Regions from separate parts of the Homo sapiens genome. Here regions 1, 2, 3 and 5 are each linked to region 4. The links come from fine-mapping of genetic effects on plasma protein levels. A gene starts in region 4. Each other region holds a variant in brackets. All regions are shown on one strand. Distances are between the middles of the regions.

Region 1 (5,105 bases), 42 kb before region 4:
CCGCTCGAGGGGACCTTTTAGAGGTTCCCTTGACTGATTCCGACCTTAACTTGTATACTGATGGAAGTTCCTTTGTAGAAAAAGGACCTTGAAAAGTGGTCAGGGATAATGGAATACTTGAAAATAATCCCCTCACTCCAGGAACTAGTGCTCAGCCGGCATAACTAATAGCCCTCACTCGAGCACTAGAATTAGGAGAAGGAAAAAGGGTAAATATACATATAGACTCTAAGTATGCTTACCTAGTCCTCCATGCCCATGCAGCAATATGGAGAGAAAGGGAATTCCTAACTTCTGAGGGAAAACCTATCAACCATCAGGAAGCCATTAGGAGATTATTATTGGCTGTACAGAAACCCAAAGAGGTGGCAGTCTTACACTGCTAGGGTCATCAGAGAAGAAAGGAAAGGGAAATAGAAGGGAACCACCAAGCAGATATTGAAGCCAAAAGAGCTGCAAGACAGGACCCTCCATCAGAAATGCTTATAGAGGGACCCCTAGTGTGGGGTAACCCCCTCCAGGAAACCAAGCCCCAGTACTCAGCAGGATGAATAGAATGGGGAACCTCATGAGGACATACTTTCCTCCCCTGAGGATGGCTAGCCACCAAAGAAGGAAAAATACTTTTGCCTGCAGCTAACCAATGGAAATTACTTAAAACCCTTCACCAAAACTTTCACTTAGACATTGATAGCACCCATCAGATGGCCAAATTATTATTTACTGGACCAGGCCTTTTCAAAACTATCAAGCAGATAGTCAGGGCCTGTGAAGTGTGCCAAAGAAATAACCCCTGCACTGCAGGCCATACCTTTCAATCCCTGTACCTTTAACCTCCTTGTTAAGTTTGTCTCTTCCAGAATCGAAGCTGTAAAACTACAAATGGTTCTTCAAATGGAGCCCCAGATGCAGTCCATGACTAAGATCTACTGCAGACCCCTGGACTGGCCTGCTAGCCTCATGCTCCAATGTTAATGACATTGAAGGCAACTCTCCCGAGGAAATCTCAACTGCACAACCCCTACTACACCCCAGTTCAGCAGGAAGCAGTTAGAGCAATCATTGGCCAACCTCCCCAACAGCACTTGGGTTTTCCTGTTGAGAGGGGGGACTGAGAGCAGGACTAGCTGGATTTCCTAGGCTGACTAAGAATCCCTAAGCCTAGCTGGGAAGGTGACTGCACCCACCTTTAAACACGGGGCTTGCAACTTAGTTCACACCTGACCAATCAAGTAGTAAAGAGAGCTCACTAAAATGCTAATTAGGCAAAAACAGGAGGTAAAGAAATAGCCAATCATCTATCACCTGAGAGCACAGCGTGGGGGACAATGATCAGGATATAAACCCAGGCATTTGAGCCAGCAATGGCTACCCTCTTTGGGTCCCCTCCCTTTGTATGGGAGCTCTGTTTACACTCTATTAAACCTTGCAACTGCAAAATATATATATATATATGAAAAATAATTATAAAATTGGTAATGGAGAAGCATGGAAATAAGTGGGACTGAGGAATAACATAAATGGACTACTATTTATTTATCATTTTATTAATATTATTTTTTAAAATAATATTAATTATTATTATTTATAATTTTATTATATTTATCATTTTATTAATGATATTATTTATTATATCATTTATTATTTATCATTTTATTAATCATTAATATTAATGTATTATTTATCATTTTATTAATATTAATTTGATTGTATTACTTCTTTTTGCTTCATTTCTCTAAAAAATAAAGCTAAAAAAGATGGCAAGATATTATCGCTGTAGATTCTAGATGGTCAACCTATACTTGTTTGTTAAATGTTTTCTGTATGATAAAGATAATTTATTACAAAAAGAAAAGCAACATGACTATGGAATTATTTCTTATTTTTATTTTTATTTGCTACCACAAGAAATGTGAACTCTGATACATTGTGAACAGTTCAGATCTGCAAAATTATCACCCACAAGCTGTTTGAGTATGATTTATGGTAATTAATTGAAAACATTATCTTAATTTTTTCCCAAATGAACATTTTGTATTATAACTAGCTTATTCTAAAAGAAAAATCAATAAAAAGCAATAGCCTTTTTAAAATACCCAAATAGATAACGTTAGAAGAGCAAACATGATATGAACAGGGAACTCTTCCAAGATCAATGTGAAAATTTGAAACCAAATAAATATTAACACAGTTTTCTGATAAAAATTATTGCCTCCAATAACTGCACAGGTCATATGATAGTTACTGTTCATGGCTTAC[G/A]TATAATTGACCAAATTTCAGTAGCTATGTTATCAGCTTTCCAGTTCTTTGATGTTAATAACTTCCCTCATTGGCCTCAGGGGCTTTGAAGTTTTGTCCCTTTTTCCTGTTTTATAGTTGCTCAGCACCTAATCTTATCCCTTTCCCAATTCTTCTGACAGTGTTAGGATAAGATGAAAGGACCAAAGTGGCATTCTGGACATCTGGTTAATATATCTCAAAGGGGTGCACTTTAGTGATAAATCTCCAGTGAGATACAGTTCAAGGCTATTTTTGACATGGACCCTGCTGAGCCATCTTCCAGGAAACCTCTACATTTTACCATCCTTGAAACAAATATATTAGGCTCCTGCAAAGAGATCAGTTTTCACTTTTATAATTCTAAGAATGACTACTAAGTCTTATCTGCAAATATCTGATTCAGAAGATAATAGGGATAAAAGTACAAATTGGACATCTTTTGGCAAAGGAAGCTCCTTAAAACTCAGCCTTGGTTACATCAAGAATAAGAATTCCTGTGTCATCCCTAAGAAGTAGATTTTTATATAACTCAAAACCAGCTCAAGAAATATAATATTTAAACAAACTTCTCAGTGCTTGGTTAATAAGCATTGTTATGAAGAAACAATGAAAAATAAAACAAAAACAACTCAACTTTAGTGAGTTTAGTGAGTGTCATTGCAAAGAAAATTTCACATTGCACTTAGGGATTTTATAACCTTAAGGCTTATTACAAAGGTCACACTATTTCAATTAAGAACAAAAGTGAGTTTTAATAATAAACTGTCAGCATTTCAAATCTTCTCTCCTAGGTATCTTGAAATATACAACATATTGTTGTTAACTATAGTCACCCTATGTGCTATCAAAAGCTAGAACATATTCCTCCTATCTAGCTGTATGTTTGTACGATGAACTAAACTCTTTTCATCTCCCCTCACCCGTCTCAGCCTCTGGTAACTATTCTACCCTCTGGTTACCTTCTACCCCGTACCTCCATGTGTTTACATATTGTTGTATAAATTTTGTGGAAAAAAATCCTTTTTAACAAAATAATCTGCTGGCTATATTTCTTCTCATATTATTTGAGGAATTGCATTGAATTTTGGGTACTGAATTTTGAGGACGTGAATTAAGGATGAGCTACATCTCATGACCTCGTCACAGACCCCTACTATAAACATCTGCATACAAGTTGGCATATTACAACAATAGCATGAGAGTCAGGGTCTGTAGAAATTCCCAGCCTAACTTTTTCCTGGACTGGCCAAACTGAACCTGAACCAGTGTATGGGCAATGTAGTATGCTTGTCAGAGGCACCAAACTGCTAACTCAAAAATAAACATGACTAAAAGAACTTCTCCCAGTATACCCATATGAAGCTGACCATTTGCCCAGTAAGAATGCAATGAAAAGGGCTTTTAATGTACAGCCAAATGGCAGTCCAGCAAGGAAGCTCATGAGCAACCTACAAGTAGTGAGCATTTTGATGTAATAGAGACTTACATGCAATTCAGAATTATGTTTACAACATCACAAAACAAAAATTTAGAGATAGGCTCTCACTCTGTTGCCTAAGCTGGAGTGCAGTGGGATGATCATAACTTACTGCAGCCTTGAACTCCTGGGTTCAACTGAAGGTCCTCCTACCTCAGCCTGCTGAGTAGCTAGGACCACAAGCACACACCACCGCAACTGGCTTAAATTAAAATATAAATTGTAGAGATAGGGTCTTAATGTGTTGCCCAGGCTGCTCTTGAACTCCTTGCTTCAGGTGATCCTCCCACCTCAGCCTCTCAAAGTGCTGGGATTATAGACCTGAGCCACAGCACCTGGCCAACTGACCTATGATTTTACACAATGGCTGCTCTTCCCTTCTTTAACTATTATTCATTCTTCTTTGATCCTCATTATTTGACTGTAGTCCTTCTTATGTCTTGTTTTCCTTCATTACCTCTTATTCTATCACATTGCCATTGTCATTCTCCACTGGGGAAGCTCTTTCTTGCTGAAGACTGGAAAGACAAGTCCATTCACCTGATTTTCTGTAAGATTGTGGCTCATGTATTGACTTGTCAGACAATTCTGAAGTTTCATCAAAATTAGCTATCATGCTTGCATAATGGCCCTGAACCCTCACTCCTACTCTTAGCTTCAGTACCATCTATGTCCTCAACTGTCCATGATACTTATAATTCCCGTAAATCTTCACTTAACACCTAACATTTATTTAATCTTACTAGGCAAGGTAATAAGAAATACATAGGTTTGCCTCCAGAAGTGGGTTCTTAAGAAACCCACCAGAGGAACTCCTCTTTCAGATGTCCACATTAGAAGATTTCATATCACATTTGGTGCCACAGGCCTTTGACAAGGAGGATGCAGAGGAAAAAGCAAACTTCACCTCTTCCTAGGGAAAGTGTTGGCCTGCCAACAGGAAAGAGGCAACATCTGGGAAAATCCCCAGTCTTTGCCAGGAAGAGTCCATGCCAACCCCACCCCATGACCCCTGTCCTGCCTACTCATTGTCACTCTTCACTCCAATGTCCCTCCCCCAGATCCTCTTATAAAATCCCACTCTTTCCTGACCAGACAAACCATACCATATCCCACCAGAGAGGTAAGTGGGAGCTGAGAGAAGATGAGACCCAGGGAGGAGCTACTGCACATGACACAGGAGAATACATGGGAGGGTCCCTTCCTCAGGGAGCACAGGAACTCTGAGACTCAGCAAGGGTGTCCTGGGAGGGCTCGGGGATGGGAGAGTACACAGATTCACAACTCATTCAGAACTGTAGAAGATGATGGATGTGACCAAGATCACTTTAGTCCTAGGGGACTAGAG
Region 2 (5,105 bases), 50 kb after region 4:
AGAACCTTTAGCTTCTTCCATTGGAGTTTCTATTTCCACAGGCTCCTTTCAGTGCATGCCTGGTCAGGAGAGGAGGCCTCCATGATGAATAATGTTAAGACGCCCTGAACTTGTGTCTCTCCATTTCTCCACTGCCCCAAGCAGGGTGCTCCACATCTTATCCTGCTGCCTCTCTTGTCTCACAGATGGTCCTGCTCCAGGCTCACACACTCAGTGCCCCTCCTCCCAGGGTCCTTCCCTCATACCCATTATCACCATTCCTGGAAGATCTCTGCTTCTTCCTGGGCTGCTCAGGGCCATGGGAACTGGGCATCTCATTGCTGCTGGGGAAGGGCAAAGCCTGCCCTTGACTCTCACAGTTTGCCAAGTTGTTTGTGGAAGGGACCTCTTGTGTGACCACTCCCAGGATGTGCCTGGAAGAGGCTTCTCCTGATGCTGGGCTTTCCTTGCATCAGTGCCCTCTATAGGGCCTGTGAACTTCTCTCATTGCCCTCTGCTTAGAATTGCAATTTAAGACTTCCTTTATAAAGAGGGATTCACAGGAAAATAGCTTCTCTTTTTGGATTTGAGGAATTCACAACTTTTCTTAGACTCCATACTCAAATTAAAAAGCAAATAATGGGGTCTCGATACACTATGTGTTTTTGACTGCTCAAGGGTGCAAGACTTAGAGGGAGAGATCTTGGATGGCTTATTCTAAGAGTTTAGTCCTTTCTGAACATTTTTATGTCCTTTATTTTCATGGACAAGTCCTGAGATATCAAAAAGAGAGGAAGAGTCCTGACTTGCTTCCTGCCTTTCAAGTTTCCATTAAAACTTCAAGTGTTATCTGATCCCATTTGTTTGTGAATTTTGTTGGAGGTTGGTCATATCTGTGCTAAGATTTAAAAAAAAAAATTCTCAATGCCTCCAAACACACACAAAAACGATTGTGGTACCGGTAAATATAAAAGTCAAATTTAATTGTGTGCTAAGGATTGGGTGCGTAGTGCCTCATATTTATTTGCTTTTTAAGATCTTCCTGTGGGGCTCGCAGCTATGGCTATGATTCATCGGTATGTTTTTACCGAATCCAGTAAGGCTTCAGAGAGCTGAATGGATTGAATGTGAAGAAAACTAGAGAGATCTCAGAAAGACAGTTGTGATAACTAAATGACCCTAGAGCAAAACTTGTGCTTGTGTTTGATTTTCACTTCAATACATAGTAGCCGCTTGATCCTAGGTAAATTACTTAGGCCTTCTCTGACCCTCAGTTTCTTCATCTGTTAAATATGGTGGCAAATGGCACCTCTGTTTTTAGGATTTCATGGGAATTAAGTGGGTTCCTGTTTGTCAAGCATTTAGAATAGTGCCTGGCATAGAGACCATACGATGTAAGTTTGTTTAAAATAAACTAGAGCTTTCCTGTGAAGCAGAAGAGGCTAAGTTATAAGGAGGTTTTCTTACATCTACAGAACACATCAGGCCGTGGAAGATCCTTGGTGCATCTGGTAATTTCTCAGCTCCTTTTCTTTCCAGTCTGAAGTTAGCAGAAAGGCTGTTATTCACATTGCCTGCCAAGAATGTAAACAAGAGGGTGAGTATCTCTCCACAGCAAGTTTAAAATCTAGATTATAAGGTTAGAAAGCAGCAAATAGCTTCTGGAAGATGGCCAGTAACATAAAATATCATCTATATATTTGAAACTTCCTAAATGTTATTGGAGGCTTACAAAGGAATTGCCCCACTTGGGGAGGCATTAACACTAGGTGTGTAGGACATATTCACCCTTTCATCTATCAGAATACTCTCAGAGAAAATATGATGGGAAAGACCTGAAATGAGCTTCCTAGAACTTTGCAAAACTAGGTCAGAGAATAGGACCTTGTGGCTGCTGAAGACAAGGAGATACATTTTTAAGGGACAGGAAATATGACTTCCCTGAAAAAGGCATGACTTTGCAACCAAAGTGACTGCCAATAAATGCCCTTAATTTTATTACCATACATGTGAAATTTGGCCTGCTACATATGTAAGCAATAAAGGTA[T/A]CTATCTTAATGGGTATACAGCTATTGGGGCAATAAATATTTTTTATGAGAGAACTTTGTCAGTTGTTATTTGTTTTAAATCTCTCTCTTTTCCATATTGTGCTAGTGAAGCAGGATATTTCCCTGACCCCTTCACAAGCCTCACAACAGGGGTGCCTCACTTAGCCCACAGCTCTCAACCCCTTGCAGTTGGGGGAGCATGCAGTTGAGCAGGTGCAGGAGCCAGGGCAAGTGCTACTGGGCACCAGCAGGAATGAACTCCGTACCAGCCCCAGAGCAGCATCTAGGGGGGTGCCTGTGACCCCTGAAGCCCCAGAGGGAGTGTTATGGTCAGTGTTCTTTTAGCTTTGCCATCCCTGGATGGCTTATGTCAATGGAGGGTCATTGTGACAGACTTTTGCATTCACACTTGTGGCTCTGAGCTCTTATCTGCAACCCAGGAAAAATCAGGTCACATGAATGAATTGAAGATGGTAAATACAGGGGATTTTATTGCTGACGAAAGTGGATCTCAGCCAGAGAGGGAGCTGAAAGGGGGACAGAGTGGGAAGGTAATTGTCCCCTGAAGACTGGCTGTCCCCAGCCAGACCCCTCTTTGAAGCTATGCCATCAAGCTGCCCCTCTGAAGTCAAGCTGCTTCTCTCTGACATCCAACTCTAGTCTCTGATATCCAGCTGCTTCCCCTCTCTCTGCCACCTGAGCCTGGAGTTTTTATGGGCACAGGATGTGGGGGGTGGGCCATGGGTGGTTTTGGAAAATGCAACATTCGAGCAGGAAAACAGGAATTCAAGTTCTCACTTTGGGCCATGGTTCCAGGCTTGAGGGTGGGGCCCTCACCAGGGATCTGCCCTCTTCTGCCCAGAATTTCCCTGCTTCCTGTCCGTATCATTTCCCATCTTTGAAGACACACATCTAACTGATGTAAGAATACAGATGATGACCAGTCTTAGCTAATTTCTTCTGACAGGGGGCATTTTTTGGAGGGAGAATGGCAGTCAGACTCTTCCCAGAGGTCTATCTAAGGGTCCCTGGCAAATGGGAGCCATCATCTGAGGCTCCAGTTGCCTGACTCTTTGGAGTTTGATGGCCTCTAGATGAGAAGAAACAAGGTTTACAAGGTTAAGCATGCATGGATCAAATATGTGTATTGTACAAAGAGGAGTTAAAAAGAAGAGAATCTAGTGCCAAAAATTACAGAAGTAAGTGAAATATACTAATCATTCTGAAAACAATATGGTGCCCCATGGTATAAAACAGAATAAAGGTAAGAACAGCAAGCATAGGCAAGACTATAAAAAGGATGACTCACCTTATGAAGATTCTGCCAGTTTCATTTTGTATAAACAACCCCAGCTGAGTGTGGTTTAAACTGTAGAATGCTATTGATGTTGAGGGCTGTCTAAAGATCCTTCTACAAATCCGGCCCCCAGCATGAGAGCCATTCTCTCACAGACACTTTTCAAAGATGTTTTGCCACCTTTCAGATTGATATCAGTGATCCTTCCTTAGTAGTCTCTTCCCATGTGTGAAACCATCTTTGTGGAGGAATGGATAATGGTGGTGCACACTGAAGGTCTTTCAAGATTCTGTTCAGCTTGTTACATATTGTATTAGTGTGCTCTTGCAGCTGTAACAAACTTGGTGGCATAAAACAACAGAAATGTATCCTTCCACAGTTCTGGAAGAGAGAAGACTGATATTAGTATTGTGGGGACAAAGTTCAGAGGTTGGCAGGGTCACATTTCCTCTAGATGCTCTAGTGGGGCATCTTCCAGCAGCTGGTGGTTTCTGGCCTTCTTCAGCTTGTTGCTGCGTCACCCCAATCTTCACAGCCACCATCTTCAAATCTCTTTATTCTTTACCTTCACATTGCCTTCTCCTCTGTGTGTATGAGCCTAATCTCTCCCTTATAAGAGCAGCTGTGATTGCATTTAGAACCCACCAGGATAATCCAGGATTATCTCACTGTCCTCAAATCCTTAATCACATCTGCAAAGACTTTCTTTTTCTCCAAATACGGTCACAATTACAGGTTGTAGGAATTGGAACATGATAGCTTGGGGACCACTTTTCATCCTACATACGCTTCATCTCATGTAATCCTGAAGTAAGTATGTATACCCTCCCTTTACAGGTGAGGAATCTAAGACTCAGAGAGCTTAATGCTTTTACATTAAGTATTTTTTGTTGGCCTCCTAATGTGTTCTAGATGCCCTTTTGGTTTCTAGGACACCGCAATCTCTTGATATCATTTTTACCTCATTGGCCACCCTTTTGTTCTCCTTTGGGGCTACTCCTTGCTCTTTTTTTTAGCCTCGATGTCAGACATTGCAATTCTTAATTGCTGAACCTCTTCTTCCCTTCCCTTTTCTTCTTTATTCTCTCACTGCACCCTAACCTCCAAATCATCCTTCTGGGAGTCTTAATGTGAATGTTTTAATAGATACATCAAACTCAAGTTCAAAACTCAACACCTGATTTCCGCCTTTCTCCTACCCCATAAAAAACATTGCTCCAATATCAGCCTCTCCCATCTCACTGATCCATTCTTTCGGTAGCTTCAGCCAAAACCTTGAAGCCATTGCTCATTCCTCTCTTATGCTCTGTTCCACTCCATATTCAAGAATTCCTGTTGATGCTTCCTTCAAAACAGATCTCTCCTGGGCCACTTCCCAACTTCTCCAGGGCTGTGTTCAAGCCCCATCTTCTTCTTGCTTGATTTACTGCAAGTAATTCCTAACTGGTCCCCTGCTTCTACCTCATTGTCTGTGTGTCCTGTTTACTAACTAGCCAGCAGGAGCCTTTTAAAACATGAGTGAGATAATGTACTCAGACCTCTGCTCAAAATCATATACTGGCTCCTCACTTCACTCAGTGAAAGCCTGCAAATGCAGCATGATTCGGTCCTATTTCTGCTCTTTTAACTCTTCCACCCCTGACTGTGTTGCAGAAATCACCAGGCATTCTCTCAATTAAGTCTTTGCATGGCTGTCCCTTCCTCCTGGAACATACTTCTACATATGTCTGCATGATTAACTTCCTCAGCTAAATATTTTAATGAGCCAACCCCAACCTGTA
Region 3 (5,105 bases), 18 kb after region 4:
CACCTGTAGAGGGCTGCATAAAAGAGACTCTAACCTCTGATAGCTACTTCCTGGGATGCATCCAGCAAAATCATGGGGGCCCAACCCTCACCCCAATATGTAGAGAAGGTTTGACTTGGAGCCAAAGACGATTATTCTCAAACCTCAAGATTTAATGTTATTTGCTTTGGTGGGAATTGGGCTTATTACAGACTTATTACAGACTTATTATTTATTTTTATTTTCCATTTCTCTCTTTTGGAATGAGGCTGTCCATCCTGTGCCTGTCCCATCACTATATTGTGGAAGTACATAACTTACTTGATTTCACAGCTGGAGAAACATGTGCCTCAGAATGAATCATACTTGACTTTCACACGTATCTGATTTTGATTATATTTAGATGATAATCTGGACCTTAGACTTTTAAGAGGATACTATAATGAGCTAAGACTTTTGGGGCTTTTGGGATGAAATGAAACATTTTGTACCTGAGAAATACATGATTTTTAGGCAGCTAGAATGCTGCAGTTTGAATGTTTGTCTTCTCCAAAGTTCATGTTGAAATTTAATTGCCATTGGAACAATGTTAAGAGGTGGGACTTTTATGTGGTGACCAGGCCATGAGGATTCTAAAGAACAATTCCTCCTTTCAGGAGCACACACACGCGTGCACACACACACACACACACACACACGGGTTTGTGGTGCTAGTGTGTGTGTAAAAGACAAATTAAATTGCAGGTTAAGAATTGGGTGATGTCTTACATTTATTCACTTTTTAAGCTCTTCTTGTGGAGCCTCTGTCCTTGACCATAATCAATGGGTGGTTATGTGTTGAAATCATTCAGAATCCAGATAGCTGGATGAGTTGCATGTGGAAATAAGTAGAGGAAAATCAGTATTTTGGGAACTCAGGGAATGGCCCTGGAGCTAAACTGCATGTCTGAATCTAGTGCCAACACATAGTAGCTGTTTGGTTTTTTAAAATTTTATTTTCGGTTCAGGGGTACATGTGCACGTTTGTTATACAGGCAAATTGTGTGTTGCAGGAGTTTGATGTATGGATTGTTTCATCACCCAGGTAATATGCATAGTATCTGATAGGTAGATTTTCAATCCTTACTTTCCTTCCACCTTCTATCTTCAAGTAGGCCCTGTGTCTGTTGTTCCTTTCTTTGTGTCCATATGTACTTGATGTTTGGCTCACACTTTTAAGTGAGATCATGCAATATTTGGTTTTCTATTCCTGTGTTAGCAGCTGTTTTAATCTTGCAGGAGTTACCTAGCCTTTCTCTTGCCTTCATTTTTTTTATGTGTCAAATATGGTTCGTAGCAGCACCTACATTATTAGGTTTTCATGGGGATTAAATGGTTTCTAATTAGGCAAGCATTTAGAATTGTGCCTGGCATAGACAGCATGTGACAAAAATTAATGTTTAAAAATCAGAGGTTTCTTGTGAAGCAGAATAGGCTAACTTATAAGTAGGTTTCCTTACACCTGCAGAACACAGCAGACCATGGAATGTCCTTGCTGCATTTGTTATTTGTTCAGCTCCTTTCTTTTCCAGTCTAAAGTTTGCAGACAGGCTATTATTTACATGCCTGCCAAGGATTTAAACAAGTGGGAGATTATCTCTCTCTCATATGTCTAAAATCTCAATTCCAAAGGTGGAAAGCAGAGAATACCTCTTGGAAAATGGCAAACAGCACCTAGAATCAGCCATAGCCTTGGAATTTTCTTGGCGTTATTGGAGGCTTATCAGAAAGTTTCCCCACTTAAGGACATATTAACACTAGATTTCCAGGAGACTGCTTTCCATATACAAGAAGACTGCTGGAGGGAATATGATGGGAAAGACCTGAAATGAGCTTCTTGGAATCTTGTAAAACTATGTCACAGGAAGGGCCTTGTTTTCTGGAGGACAATGAGATAAACCTTGAACAGATAGGAAATACAGTTTATATGCAAAAGGCATCACTTTGGAACAAAGTAGCTGCCAGGTAAAGGTATCAGTTTTATTAGCTTGCACGCGGAATTTGGCCAGTCACATGTGCAAGCAATAAAGTTAATAACATCTCAATGTGTTTCCAGATACTGGTAGCAATAAAGATTTTTATGGGAATACTGTGTCAATTGTTGATACAGTATTGAACTGAATCTCTCTCTGTTTTATATCATGCCAGTTACAGTGTATTTCATTATGTATTTTAAAGTATTAGATCTTTTATATCTGGAATGTTTTTGCTTGCTTTAAGTCTTCTTGAAGTAAATAAGAACTCTCATATTTAAAAAAATTATGCCACAAAGAATTTTTTTAATTTTAAACTATTAATTACTTGTTCATTTTTTTTGCAAGATACACTTATTATGGTACCAAGTATACTGGACTCCTACCTACTGTATCTTTT[A/C]TGAAGTCTGAAGAATATGATTGACTTTCTTATTTATAAGAAAAAAGATATCTTAACCTGGCTATAAGCTTGTAAGATAGCATAAATATTTTTACTAAATGCAGAAATAAGTTGGATTAACATAACAAACACCTATGAACCTGCCAAGTAGAATAAATAATGTCAACGTTTGTCATCTTTGTTTAATATTATTAGTTTTATTTAAAAAGTTATAAATTCTCCAGGCAAATACTGTGATAGATTTTTCTTTTTATTCTGTGTATATGCAACAATGTAGCAAAAATTATCTCATCAATATCTGACAACTTGATCTTGGACTTCCCCGTCTCAAAAAATTAGAAAAATAAATTTGTGCTCATTAAAAATTACCCAATCTCAGTTATTTCATTCTGTTATAGCACACAAAATGAACTAAAACTAGAAGAATGCCAACCTGGTATCTATCACCTCTTCCTCACTAATGACATAAGCAAGAATTTACATGATGTGTCAATGTATCACAATAAAGAACATTTTATTACTATTATTATTATTACATACATTTTTTTTTTGAGACGGAGTCTCACTCTGTCGCCCCGGCTGGAGTGTAGGGGTGCTATCTCAGCTCACTGCAAGCTCCGCCTCCTGGGTTCAGGCCATTCTCCTGCCTCAGCCTCCCGAGTAGATGGGACTACAGGTGCCCACCACCACAACCGGCTAATTTTTTGTATTTTTAGTAGAGACGGGGTCTCACCATGTTAACCAGGATGGTCTCGATCTCCTGACCTCGTGATCTGCCCGCCTCTGCCTCCCAAAGTGCTGGGATTACAGGCATAAGCCACCGTGCCTGGCCAACATTCTCCTTTTTAAATACAGAAGGCACAAAACTAGCAGAATATAAATTGCTGTAACATATGAGGCTGAGGAATAGAAGTGGAATTTGGAAACCCAAACTGGATTTTCTCTCAAGTGAAAGGATCCTTTCCTCAGAGGATCAACGACATGTCTCCAAGGCAAGGTAAATTCACAAATCTAAATTAAACCGATAACGTATTTCTGGCTATGAAATGACAAAAAGTGTAAGACAGATAACCATATAACCTTTAAACAAATGTCATTATGCCAATTGAGGAGATGAATATTAACCAGGTTTCAGAAGAATGAAGATAGTAAGAAAATCAAGGAAAAATTATCAAGTTTATCTTCTCTAAACTCATGTCGACATTTAATTGAACATTGTAATCATTTTTACATGGACCTTTAAGAAGTGATTGAGCCATGAAGGCTCTGTTCTCATAGGTGAAGTTAATACCATTATAAAATGGCTAGTTTCATTCCCTTTTGCTTCTTTGCCCTTCAGCCTTTTGCCATGTCATGAAACAGCAGGAAGGCCCTTGAAAGATTCCAGCTTCTTGATAATGAACTTTTAAGTCTCTGGAACTGTCAGAAAATAAATTTCTGTTTATTATAAATTATCCAGTCTCAAGTGTTTTCTTCTAGTTGTAGAAAATGGACTAAGATAGAAATTTGTACCAGAAGTGGGGTTGTTACTATAAAAAACACCTAAAAATGTGTGTCAGATTTGGAACTGAGTAATGGGCAGAGGGCAGAAGAGTTTAGAGGATCAGGCTAGAAAAAAGCCTAGATTGCTATTAACAGAGTGTTAAGGGCTATGCTGGTGAGGGCTCAAGAAGAGGAGAGCTATAGGCTAAACCTAAATCAGCAGTGAGATTACTTAAGTGGTTTTCAAGTGAATAATAGCAATATGAATGGTAGAGGTAATTCTGATGAGATCCCAGATGGAATTGTAGAACATGGTATTGCACAATGACCCGAGGGTTATCCTTTTTACCAAGAGGCAACAAACATGGCTGAATTGTCTTTGTGTCCCAACATTTTACGAAAGGCAGAATTTAAGAACCACAAGTTAGGATATCTGGTGGAAGAAATATCTAAGTAGCAAATTGTTAAGGATGCTGCATGACTTTTTTAAACTGTCAATAGTAAAACTTGAGAAAAGGGGAAAAAATTAAATATGAAATGTACATTGAAAAGGAAGTAGAAAGTAAAGATTTGGAAAATTCTTAGTCTGGCTGTGTTTTAAATAAAGAAAAGGCATATTCAAAAAAGAAAAACCTAGGGTGTGGCCAAATTTTGATAAGGAGATTAGCTCCCATCACAAACCCAGACAGAATGCCAATGCCTGGAGAACAGAATTAGATCAAAAGAGGACTCTTGAGAGCCCTTGGGACCTTGTTACTCACTACTCAGGGCTTCCTCAAATCTCTGATTCCTGCATTCCTAAGCAGCTCTTTTAAGCCATCTCAGAAATGGCTTAACGAAGCCCAGATGTGGTGCTGGCCATCACTCCAGAAGGCACAGGGCACAAGTTTTGATGGTGTCCATAGCATGTTAATTCTCCAGGATTGCTGACTGTAGGAGCTAGATTTCAAAAAATGTGTCAGGGAGCCTCAGGGCTCAAAGAGAGAACTGACACAGGTGCAAGGCCACCACAGAGATTACCCACTAGGACAATTCCTAATGAAACATTAGTTGGGGGGTTGCTAGGCAAATAGCTAAACATAAGCAGGAGGGAAGAACTCATGACAAAAGGGAGGTTTGAAAAATTTTACACCCCAGAGAATACCTAAAACAGGCATGCTAAATATAAGCCAAAAAGAGGAAATAAACTCTCTGTTCTCTATTTTCCTTCAATACATTCTCTTTTTTGGTTA
Region 4 (5,105 bases):
GATGGATTCTCTGCCTCTCACCTGTGCTTGAGGTCAGGCTCACACAGTAGCCAGGATTAACACTGCTTGGGGCTCCAATGCCCCAGGACTTGTAGGAGACCAGGGACCCACTGCTCCAGTGCCAGCGGCGGTTCTAGATGGGGAAGGGCCAGAACAGAGGCAGTGGTCACTCAAAAATACATGGAATCACTGGGCCTGTGTGCACACTCAGAAACATGCTAAGACACAAAGGAAGAATAAACCTTGCTAAATATTGTTTCCTTTCCTTTGCTATTGCTCTAAACTTCTTTCCTGAACTGTCCAACTCATTAACTGTATTCCACCAAGAAATAAGTGTTATGAATTTGACAGAGACCCAAAGTATCTCACTTAAAAAGTGGTTCCTGATTTTTTGTCTTTGTGGCCCAGGACCCTCATATCCAGCATAGCATTGGCTGACCATTAGTTGTTGATATATTATATTATTTAGTATACTACCAGGTTCCCAAATGCCAGCAGTACAGCAGCAGATTTTTACCACAAGTCTCCTTTCCTATATAGTCGGCAATCTAGTCTCTCTTGTGACTCTGACAGTAACAAAATAGGTAAGAAGTTGGTGCATAAAGATGCTTTGTTGACTGAAAACAGAATAAGTTTATTCATGAATGACAAGAACACCTAGGAAATTCAGCCTTCCACTTATATCTCCAATCATCTACAGTGCACCTTGCTACACAGGACATTAGAGGATCTGTAAACAGCCTGATTTCTGGAAAGCGATAAAAGCTGGTACTTAAGAGACCAGAACTTGAACCTCCTTCTTACTTCTCAAACCTGATCATTAGGAGATAAAGAAGGCTGCAGCCTACCTTTTTGGGGTCATGGAGGCCAATCCAGACATTGAAGTCATCAGTGCCACTCTCCTTAATCAGTGAGGCCACAAAGGCACCCTCGGCCTGGGTGAGCACAGACACCAGGTTGCCCGAATTCATGTTCTGGCAATAGAGCTGTTGCAGAAGAAAATGGAGCACTCAGTGGAGGAGGAAGTTGTGACGGATATACTGAGTCCTCCAAGAGGACGGGTCAGAAAAAGGACAGCAGAGTAATGTCCGTGATGATGCTGTCACTGACCACCAGGTTCTTTGTGCTGGGAATGTGCTGAATAATGGGATAAAGTAGATTGGAAAGTTTGGGGCTGATGATAGTATAGCAAGGGGTTCAGTCTCATCTCATTGCAGCCACTGAACACACTGGAGAGTGGCAGCTTCCCCTCCCTTCATGAGTCTCCCTTCCCACACTGCTCTCCTCACTCACATCTGCATCAACCCAGGTCTCACGGTCTTCATTAAAGTAGTAGCAGTAGGAGCGATAGGCATTGGTGCCTTCTGGGCAGCTGATCCGGGCCTGGGGCAACTCTGTCTGGGCCTCTTGGCCTGAAAAAGAAGAGACAATTAAAGGAGGCTCTCAGGGTAAGGAAAAGGCTTGAAGGTGAGGTAAGAGCTTCTGAGGTTCCTTTATAGAAACAGAAGAATCCAGTCTATTATGGGATGACTGCTCACTATTGCTCCTGCATCCTACATCTTCTGTCTTTGGTTTCTTTGATCAGGGGAAAAAAAACAGAATGAATAGGCCAAAGAAACAAGTCTCCAGTTTCCCTTTTATGTCTGGAGCTCAGGCTCTTCTACCTTGAAGGACTCAGCCTTCTACTTTCTCAAGCCTGACTTGGTTTCCCTGAACACAAGGCTCTCTTCAGTTCTCCACCCCATTAGTGACTGTCTACACACAGACATCCCCAAATCCACCATCACGTATAAATTTAATCAGATAAACTCATGCCAACTGCAGCAGTTGCTTATAAGGGGTCATTTTAAATTCTAGCTCCAACTCCTTAATGAGGTGTGGATGTATATAAATGTGAAGAGATCAGCAATAAAGATCACTAAACACCACAAAACAACCCTTAACAGTGACTCTGCTTTTTTTTTTTTTTTCAAGTAGACCCGTATGCTTGGGGATAGAGTGAAGTCTTCAGGGCTAGAAAGAGTTGGTTGGTGGAAAAGAGATCTTACCTTGGCTCTGAGACAGAAACATCAGGCAGGAGATCAGCATGAAGTATGAGCTGGTCTGAGCCATGCTGAGCTGCAATGAATCTCTTGCTTAAGAGGCAAATCAACAATCTCTATAGGAGAACACAGAGAAGGGGGTTCTGAGAGATGGAGAGCAAAGCACCTATTACCTTCCTTAAAACCTCCTCTCAGAATTTCTGAGACCAGGAAGGTCCTCTGAGACACCCACACCTTCAAATGTTTCTCTTGAGAGTGGGGATTATACAGACTCAGTAACTGAAAAACAACTTTGGATCCCACTGAGGCTTCATTACAGCTAAAACCTCTTGGACAGAAACTCATGCTGTATCTTCCCGAAGATTTTAGATCTACAGTGCATGTTAGAGACGCCCTTCTCCTGTAATGCCCACTTACCTGTTGGCTGAGTCTGAGTTGGCTTCTCAGGCCAGGTAGCTGTAGGAGCTTTATATCAGGATCTGAGATAAGAACCACGTCATTTAAGCAAAAGGGGTGGGGGCAAGCGGTGAGTTTTGGGAGCATTGACAGTAAGAGATTCTGGCACCAGTACGAGCCTTTTCCCGGCACACACTGGGAGTGGTCACAACTCAGGTCCCCTTCTGGCAAAAAATTTGGCAAGCTGTCTAAGTCCAAGGTGGACTTTGCTCTTGCTCAGCAGAAAACAACTGAGGGCTCCCATGTGCCCTAATAACCCAGAGAGGAGCAGAGAACAGTAGACTTCCTTGTATTCCCTGTAAATTTAGAGGCTCCTCTTTGGTGTCAGGCATGGGTAGGAGATGGGGAAGAATTAACTGATTCCAAATAATTTAGAACAATGTGCTTGTGGCAATAAGTGGTTCCTCCATGTCTTTTTAGGCTCACAAACCTCTCAAGACCTACCTCAAGGGGTAGGTTAAATTTATATTTCTAAACATTTAACATGTCTAACAAGGTTTGAGCTAACAAAATACACATATTCTCAATGTGAGAATTGTAGAGAGCTGATGCCTAAGGAAGCTTAAAGGAGCTAAATATGAAGTCAGGCTTCATTGAAATTGTCCATTTGAAGTCAACTGTTTGTTAGTATGAAGTCAAAGATTGTGTGGTGAAATTGAGTATTTACCAGAATCATCATAGAATAGTCATTTATAATTCAGGGAATAAAAGCCAATCAGAATGCAAAATTAGGAAGAAAAAACTAACCTGAATATTCACAGAAAGAGAGATAAGTATATGAATTGGGACAAATGGATTAACAAAATATAATAAAATACTAAACAGAATTTAAATCGAATAAAGTAGATATCTATATTTCAACTTGGACTAGTATCAAAGCCATAACATTGAATACAAAAATTCAGTTGCAAGAAGTTATAAGCTATTTGATAAACTTTATATATGGTTTTAAAAGACAGATTAATACTAAATTTTATTTATTAATCAATTCTTATACAGTTTAAAAAATAAAAATCTGAAATGTAAGAATATATATTACAATTTGTCATAGTATTTGCCTAACAATTTTAAGGTTTTTTTTTCTTTATATAAAAACTGATGATGGGCCTGGTGTGGTGGCTCAAGCCTGTCATCCCAGCACTTTGGGAGACTGAGATGAGAGGATCACTTGAGCCCAGGAATTCGAGACCAGCCTGGGCAACATAGCGAGACCCCATCTCTACAAAAAAAGTATATATATATATATATATATATATATATATATATATATATATATATATATATATATCCAGATATGGTGGCACATGCCTGTAGTCTCAGCTACTTAAGAGGCTAAGGTGGGGGATTGTTTGAGCTTGGGAAGTAGAGGTTGCAGTGAGTTGTGCCACTGCACTCCAGCCTGGGTGATAGAACAGGGAACTGTCTCAAAAAATAAAAACAAAAACTAACGATATTAAACAAAGATGACAAATGTTAACATTGTTTATTCTCACTGGTTCATATGCATTTGTTAAATTAATCCAAATTTTTTCTGCTTTTACAAAAAGTAGTTATACCTTTTAAAATGATTACAACCAGAGAATGATTCCTATTTTTTTCTATAAATAAGAGATTCAGAAATATTCTTCCGTTAACAAAGGATATAGTAGGGAAGAGTCGGGTATACTTGGTATCATTACATATTTATCTTGTGAAAATTAAACAAGCAATTAATTTTTAAAAAATCTAAGATAAAAATACTTTATGGCATAATGTTTTCTTTTCTTTTTTTAACTTTAATCTTTTTTTTTTTTTTTGAGATGGAGTCTGGCTCTGTCACCCAGACTGGAGTACAGTGGCTCAATCTCAGCTCACTGCAAGCTCCGCCTTTGGGGTTCACGCCATTCTCCTGCCTCAGCCTCCCGAGTAGAGTAGCTGGGACTACAGGCATCCGCCACCACACCCGGCTAAGTTTTTTTATTTTTTTTTATTTTTAGCAGAGATGGGGTTTCACCGTGTTAGCCAGAATGGTCTCGATCTCCTGACCTCATGATCTGCCTGCCTCAGCCTCCCAAAATGCTGGGATTACAGGCGTGAGCTAACACACCCACCCTTTAACTTTAATTTTAAGTTAAGTGGTACAAGTGCAAGTTTGTTACAGAGGTAAACTTGTGTAATGGGGGTTTGTTGTGCAGATTATTTCATCACCCAGGTATTAAGCCTAGTACCCTTAGTTACTTTTGCTGACCCTCTCCCTCCTCCCATGTTCCACCCTCCAAAAGGCCCCAGTGTGTGTTGTTCCCCACTATTTGTTCAATTGTTCTCATCACTTAGCTCCCACTTATAAGTGAGAACATGCAGTATTTGGTTTTCTGTTCTTGTGTTAGTTTGCTAAAGATAATGGCCTCCAGCTCCATTCATGTCCCTCAAAAGGACATTATCTCATTCTTTTGTATGGCTGCATAGTATTCCATGGTGTATATGTACCACATTTTCTTTATCCAGTTTATCATTGATGGGCATTTAGGTTGATTCCATGTCTTTGCTATAGTGAACAGTGCTGCAATGAACATATGTATGCATATGACTTTATAATAAATATTTTTAAAATATGAGATTTTTTCTAAA
Region 5 (5,105 bases), 24 kb after region 4:
GTTTACAGGAGGCTATAAAACCTTTGCCCCTTCCTCACTTGGGGCTGACGCCATTTTAGGCCTCAGCCATCCTGCACCCAGGTGCTCATTAAAACAGCATGTTGCTCCACACTGCCTCCTGTTAGCTGTTGGTGCGCTCTCGGGGTTTGAAGTGATATAAAAACCTTATATCTGGTGCTGAAACCCAGGAGGGGCTCAGGTCTGCATCCTCCATGGACCTACCCCTCCACCCCAGAAAGCAGGCCACAGCAGCTGGACAAAGGAAGCTCCTTGGTCTCCAGTCACTTCTCTATGCATGCACATCAGTCGCTGATCTTGCCTACTGCTGAGTTTCCTTGGGAGCCCCGTTAACAGGGAAAAATCTGCACAGCCTGTTTTTGTTTCTCTGGTCCAAAAATCCAACATTGGTCCAAGAAGGCTCCAGCACGTGTCAGGCACTCGCTGATCATCTGGTCTTAAGTGGATGCCTCTTAGCCATTTGATCCTGTTTCGGGAACAAAAAAGGCAGCGGTGACAATTGCTCCTTTTATCATCTCCCTCTGGCTGTCCAGGACGGTCTCCTTTTTCCCTGTTCTCCCCAGCCTACCCTCCTTTATGGAAAACTCCCCATCCTCCATTCCAAAAAACAGCCCTCTAGGCTGCCTCATAAAAAACCTGCAAACCTTAGGCCTCAGGCAAGATATCCGCCCTAAGCGCGTTGTCTTTCTTTTTGCAATACAGCCTGGCCACAGTACAAATTAAATAACGGATCCAAATGGCCCGCAAATAGAACATTTGACTTTACAGTTTTAACTGACTTGAGCAATTATTGCCGACGACTGGAAAAATGGGGAAAAATTCCTTATGTCCAGGCCTTTGTGCACTCAGATCACTACCCGACCTCTGCAATCCTTGCTTACCTGTTCAAATCCTTCCCCTCCATTCTTGCCGCCCTGATCACCTTTCTCCCCCGACCCTCTCTCTTTTTCCTCATTCTATCCAGCTGACTGCTGTTCACCCCTCCCAGCCAGTACCTCTTCCTCTCAACTGTCTTCTTTAACCCTCCAAACCTCCTTGTTGTCTTCTCAGCCACCATCTTCCCAGCTGGCATCACCTCCAAAAGTACCCACTTCTTTTCCTACAACATCCTCTCCTCAAGACAACTCTAGCACTGTCTGTACTAATTCTCCTTCTTCACTCCGCTCTCCTGAAGCCTGTAAAACCATCCCACCACATTATGCCCCTATCTATCGTCCACTGCCTGTCAACTCAACCCCCCTTCCCCTTCAAACCCTGAGCAGGAACCACTTCTGGCTTCTTTCTTCTCTCCCACCCATATTTGTTCAGGCACCATCTTTGGCCCATACCCTACCCTTACTTCGGCGCCTGCGCTAGAATGCCCCCTTTGGGAAGTGGCAGGAACTGAAGGTATTGTTAGAGTTCATGTTCCCTTTTCCCTCACTAATGTCTCTCAAATTAACAAAAGACTCGGTTCATTTCCAGAAGACACTACCTTTTATATTAGAGAGTTTCAGTACCTTACCAAGTCTTATAAACTAACCTGGCATGACCTCTACTTTATCCTCTCTTCCACCCTCACCCCAGAAGACCAGGACCGGACCGTATCTGGACCCTAGCTCAGGCACATGCTAATACAATTCATCACCAAGCTCCTGCCCTGTCTACTGGCACAGAGGCAGTCCCCAGCCAGGACCCCCACTGGGATTATTAAGATGGGGCCTCTGGATGGCGCCATCAAGACCACATAATTATGTGTCTCCTTGCAGGACTCAAAAGGGGTGCCCATAAAGTGGTAAACTATGAAAAACTTTCAGAAATCACCCAAGGTCCTGACAAAAACCCAGCCCTTTTTCTCTCTTGTTTAACTGAAGCCATGAGAAAATATACCAACATAAACCCAGCCAGCCCAGAAGAAACCACTATTTTAAACCTTCAGATCATTTCCCAATCCACCCGTGATATTAGGCACAAGCTTCAGAAGCTTGACGATGGCCCTCAAACCCCACGACAAGACCTTATTAATTTAGCCTTCAAAGTCTTTAACAGTTGTGATGAGGAAAGTAAAAGGCAAAAACAGGCAGAGTCTCAAATGCTTGCCTCTGCCATCAGGGGCCCTGCAGGCCCCCAGGGCCGCAGCTCCACACGGAAGCCTCCAAGCAATCCACCTCCACCTGGCACATGTTTCAAGTGCAGCAATAAAGGCCACTGGTCCAGAAAATGCCCAAATCCAGGTAGGCCCACCAGACCATGCCTCCTCTGCAGAGGACTCCACTGGAAGTTGGACTGTGAGTGGCCCCTGCAAGGACCACCCCCATCCCTTCCTGAGCCGGCCAAAACCTCCTACTCAGATCTCATTGGTCTTGCCGCTGAAGACTGACGGTGCCCTGGAACGGATGCCCCAGCAACTACCATTGCTTCATCAGAGCCAAGGGTAACCCTGATGGTGGCAGGTAGGCCAGTATGTTTTTTTAAATTAATATTGGGGCAACCTACTCTGCTTTACCTAATTTTTCAGGACCCACCCAGTCCTCCCAAATCTCTGTTGTGGGAATTGATGGACAAATCTCCAAACCCTGAGCCACCTGCCACTTTTCTACTCCCTGCACACTTTTTCCTTCACTCACTCTTTGTTAGTCTTGCCTTCATGCCCAACTC[T/C]GCTCCCAGGCAGACATATCCTTTCTTTTTCTTGCTTTTTTTTTTTTTTTTTTAAGACGGAGTCTCACTCTGTCACCCAGGCTGGAGTGCAGTGGTGCGATCTCCGCTCACTGCAAGCTCTGCCTCCCAGGTTCATGCCATTCTCCTGCCTCAGCCTCCCGAGTAGCTGGGACTACAGGCGCCCACCACCATGCCCAGCTAATTTTTTGTAATTTTAGTAGAGACAGGGTTTCACCATGTTAGCCAGGATGGTCTCGATCTCCTGACCTCGTGATCCTCCCGCCTCGGCCTCCCAAAGTGCTGGGATTACTGGTGTGAGCCACCGTGCCCAGCCGAAACGTCCTTTCAAAACTCCACACTACTCTCCACTTCCACGTTCCCCATAGTACCCAACACATCCACCCAGACCCCTCCAGTACTTCTAGTTTTCTTCTACTCCTTCAACCTCCCACCCTAAAACACACAACCTTTCCTTATCCCCCATCCGTAGTTAATCCTGCTGTTTAGGATACTTGCTCACCCTCAGTTGCAGAACACCACACCCCTGTCCACATTACTCTTAAAGAGCCCACCCAGTTCCTATCACAGAAGGAGTATCCCATCCCCCAAGCAGCTCTCATGAGCCTAAAGCCTATCATTTCTTGCCTTCTTGCCAGTCACCTACTCCGCCCAACAAACTCCCCTTTTAACACACCAATTCTACCTGTCAAAAAGCTAGCTGGAACTTATCGCTTAGTCCAGGACCTCAGGCTCATTAACCAAGCTGTACTTCCAGTATGTTCAGTAGTTCCTAATCCATACACTTTCCACAATTCCCTCCAATACCACCCATTTTTCTGTTCTAAACCTAAAGGATGCTTTTCTTCACAATTCCTTTGCACGCTAATTCCCAAAACCTCTTTGCCTTTATGTGGGAAAACCCCGACACCCACATTTCACCTCTGCTCACCTGGTGCGTACTACCTCGAGGTTTCAGAGACAGCCCCCACCTTCTTAGACAGGCCCTTGCTTGCGACCTTTGTACCTTATCCCTAAAATTGTCCACTCTCCTTCGATGTGTTAATGATCTGCTCCTGCGTAGCACCTCTCAAAGAGACTGCAACGCCCATACTATCTCTCTCTTTTAAACCTGGCAGAACGGGGGCATTAAGTCTCCCCTAAAAAAGCACAAATATGCACCCCCTCAGTCATCTATCTAGGCCTAGCTCTTACCCTGTGTACCCAAGGGCTCACAACCGACCGCATTTCCCTCCTCCTGTCCTTCCCACCTCTGCAAACTAAGCAAGAAATTCTCTCTTTTCTAGGGACAAGCAGGATATTTTAGACTCTGGGTTCCCTCCTTGGCTGTACTTGCCAAACTGTTATACCAAGCTGCTAAAGGCCCTCTCCATGAGCCTTTAAAACCTGCACAGCCTATTACTCAACCTTTCCATCTACTCCAGAAGGCTCTCATCTCAGCCCCCGTCCTCACTCTCCCAGACCTCACCAAACCTTTCTCCCTCTATACCGACAAACAGTGTGAAGTTACACTGGGTGTTCTAACCCAGTCTAAGGGACCCACCCTCCAGGTTGTTGCCTACCTCTCTAAACAGCTTGAAGCCACAGTTCTCAGATGGCCTGCCTGCCTCCGAGCATTGATGGCAGCTGCTGCCCTCACCCTTAAAAACCTAAAACTATCTCTCCATGCCAACCTAACAGTTTATTCAACCCATAACATCAAAGACATGCTAGCTCACCACAGTGTACTAAGTCTCATCTCTGCCCCACAGCTCCTCCAACTGTATGCTCTATTCATAGAAAGCCCCCAAATCACCATGCTAACCAGCTCCCGTCTAAACCCGGCCACGCTCTTACCTGAAGCTACAACCACCCAAGACCCTACACACTTCTGTTTGAACACTATTCAAACCTTTCTTATACCTTTTCCAAATCTAACATACCAATATCTTCCAGATGCCTCCTTTACTTGGTTTGTAGATGGCAGCTCCTTCCTACATCAAGGACGCCGGCATGCTGGCTATGCTATAGTGTCACCCCCACACACACTATTGAAGCCAATCCACTCCTCCTAGGCATCACCTCCCAAAAAGCTGAACTCATCGCCCTCACTCGAGCTCTCACTCTAGCAACCAGACAACAGATCAACATATATTCAAATTCTCATTATGCTTTCCACATAGTATACTCACACTTGTCCATCTGGAAAGAACGGGGTTTCCTAACTGCCAAAAATATCGCTGTCATAAATGACTCCCCCATCAGCAAGCTCCTTCAAGCTGCCCGGCTCGCACAGAAAGTTGCCATCATTCATTGCAGGGGCCACCAAACCCCAGACAATCCTATATCGGTGGGAAATGCTTTAGCAGATCAGGTAGCCAAACAAGTAGCCCTACAACCTGTGCAAGGCCGGTTTCTGTCCCTGTCCTTGTTCTCTCCTCTTTACTCCTCAG

Alleles and levels. Alleles are on the strand shown, and positions count from the first base shown. The strength of an association depends on the size of the effect and on how common the allele is.
For the plasma level of the protein whose gene starts at base 2,486 in region 4, A is the low allele of the variant in region 1 and G is the other (moderate association).
As copies of A replace T in region 2, the plasma level of the protein whose gene starts at base 2,486 in region 4 goes down (moderate association).
As copies of A replace C in region 3, the plasma level of the protein whose gene starts at base 2,486 in region 4 goes down (strong association).
As copies of T replace C in region 5, the plasma level of the protein whose gene starts at base 2,486 in region 4 goes down (moderate association).

What was found. PIP is the chance, under the fine-mapping model, that this variant and not a neighbour inherited with it causes the effect. The UK Biobank Pharma Proteomics Project read protein levels with antibody pairs (Olink). The fine-mapping took linkage between variants from a reference panel, not from the people measured, so its PIPs are less certain.
Region 1: its variant is fine-mapped to the plasma level of the REG1A protein (UK Biobank, PIP above 0.99).
Region 2: its variant is fine-mapped to the plasma level of the REG1A protein (UK Biobank, PIP above 0.99).
Region 3: its variant is fine-mapped to the plasma level of the REG1A protein (UK Biobank, PIP above 0.99).
Region 5: its variant is fine-mapped to the plasma level of the REG1A protein (UK Biobank, PIP above 0.99).

Annotation. Positions count from the first base shown.
Region 1 is chr2:79,159,503-79,164,607 of GRCh38, reverse strand. REG3A (regenerating family member 3 alpha) reads left to right here and starts at 4,855. Exons shown (of 6, transcript NM_002580.3): 1 at 4,855-4,880. The variant G/A (reference allele first, on the strand shown) is at 2,260.
Region 2 is chr2:79,067,698-79,072,802 of GRCh38, reverse strand. No RefSeq gene overlaps it. Among named protein-coding and RNA genes, the nearest start is that of REG1B, 18 kb to the left of the region's middle. The variant T/A (reference allele first, on the strand shown) is at 2,028.
Region 3 is chr2:79,100,330-79,105,434 of GRCh38, reverse strand. No RefSeq gene overlaps it. Among named protein-coding and RNA genes, the nearest start is that of REG1B, 15 kb to the right of the region's middle. The variant A/C (reference allele first, on the strand shown) is at 2,392.
Region 4 is chr2:79,117,869-79,122,973 of GRCh38, reverse strand. It overlaps REG1A (regenerating family member 1 alpha), which reads right to left and starts at 2,486. Exons shown (of 6, transcript NM_002909.5): 1 at 2,460-2,486; 2 at 2,049-2,158; 3 at 1,294-1,412; 4 at 849-986; 5 at 22-133. The coding sequence starts at 2,112.
Region 5 is chr2:79,094,313-79,099,417 of GRCh38, reverse strand. No RefSeq gene overlaps it. Among named protein-coding and RNA genes, the nearest start is that of REG1B, 8.9 kb to the right of the region's middle. The variant T/C (reference allele first, on the strand shown) is at 2,656.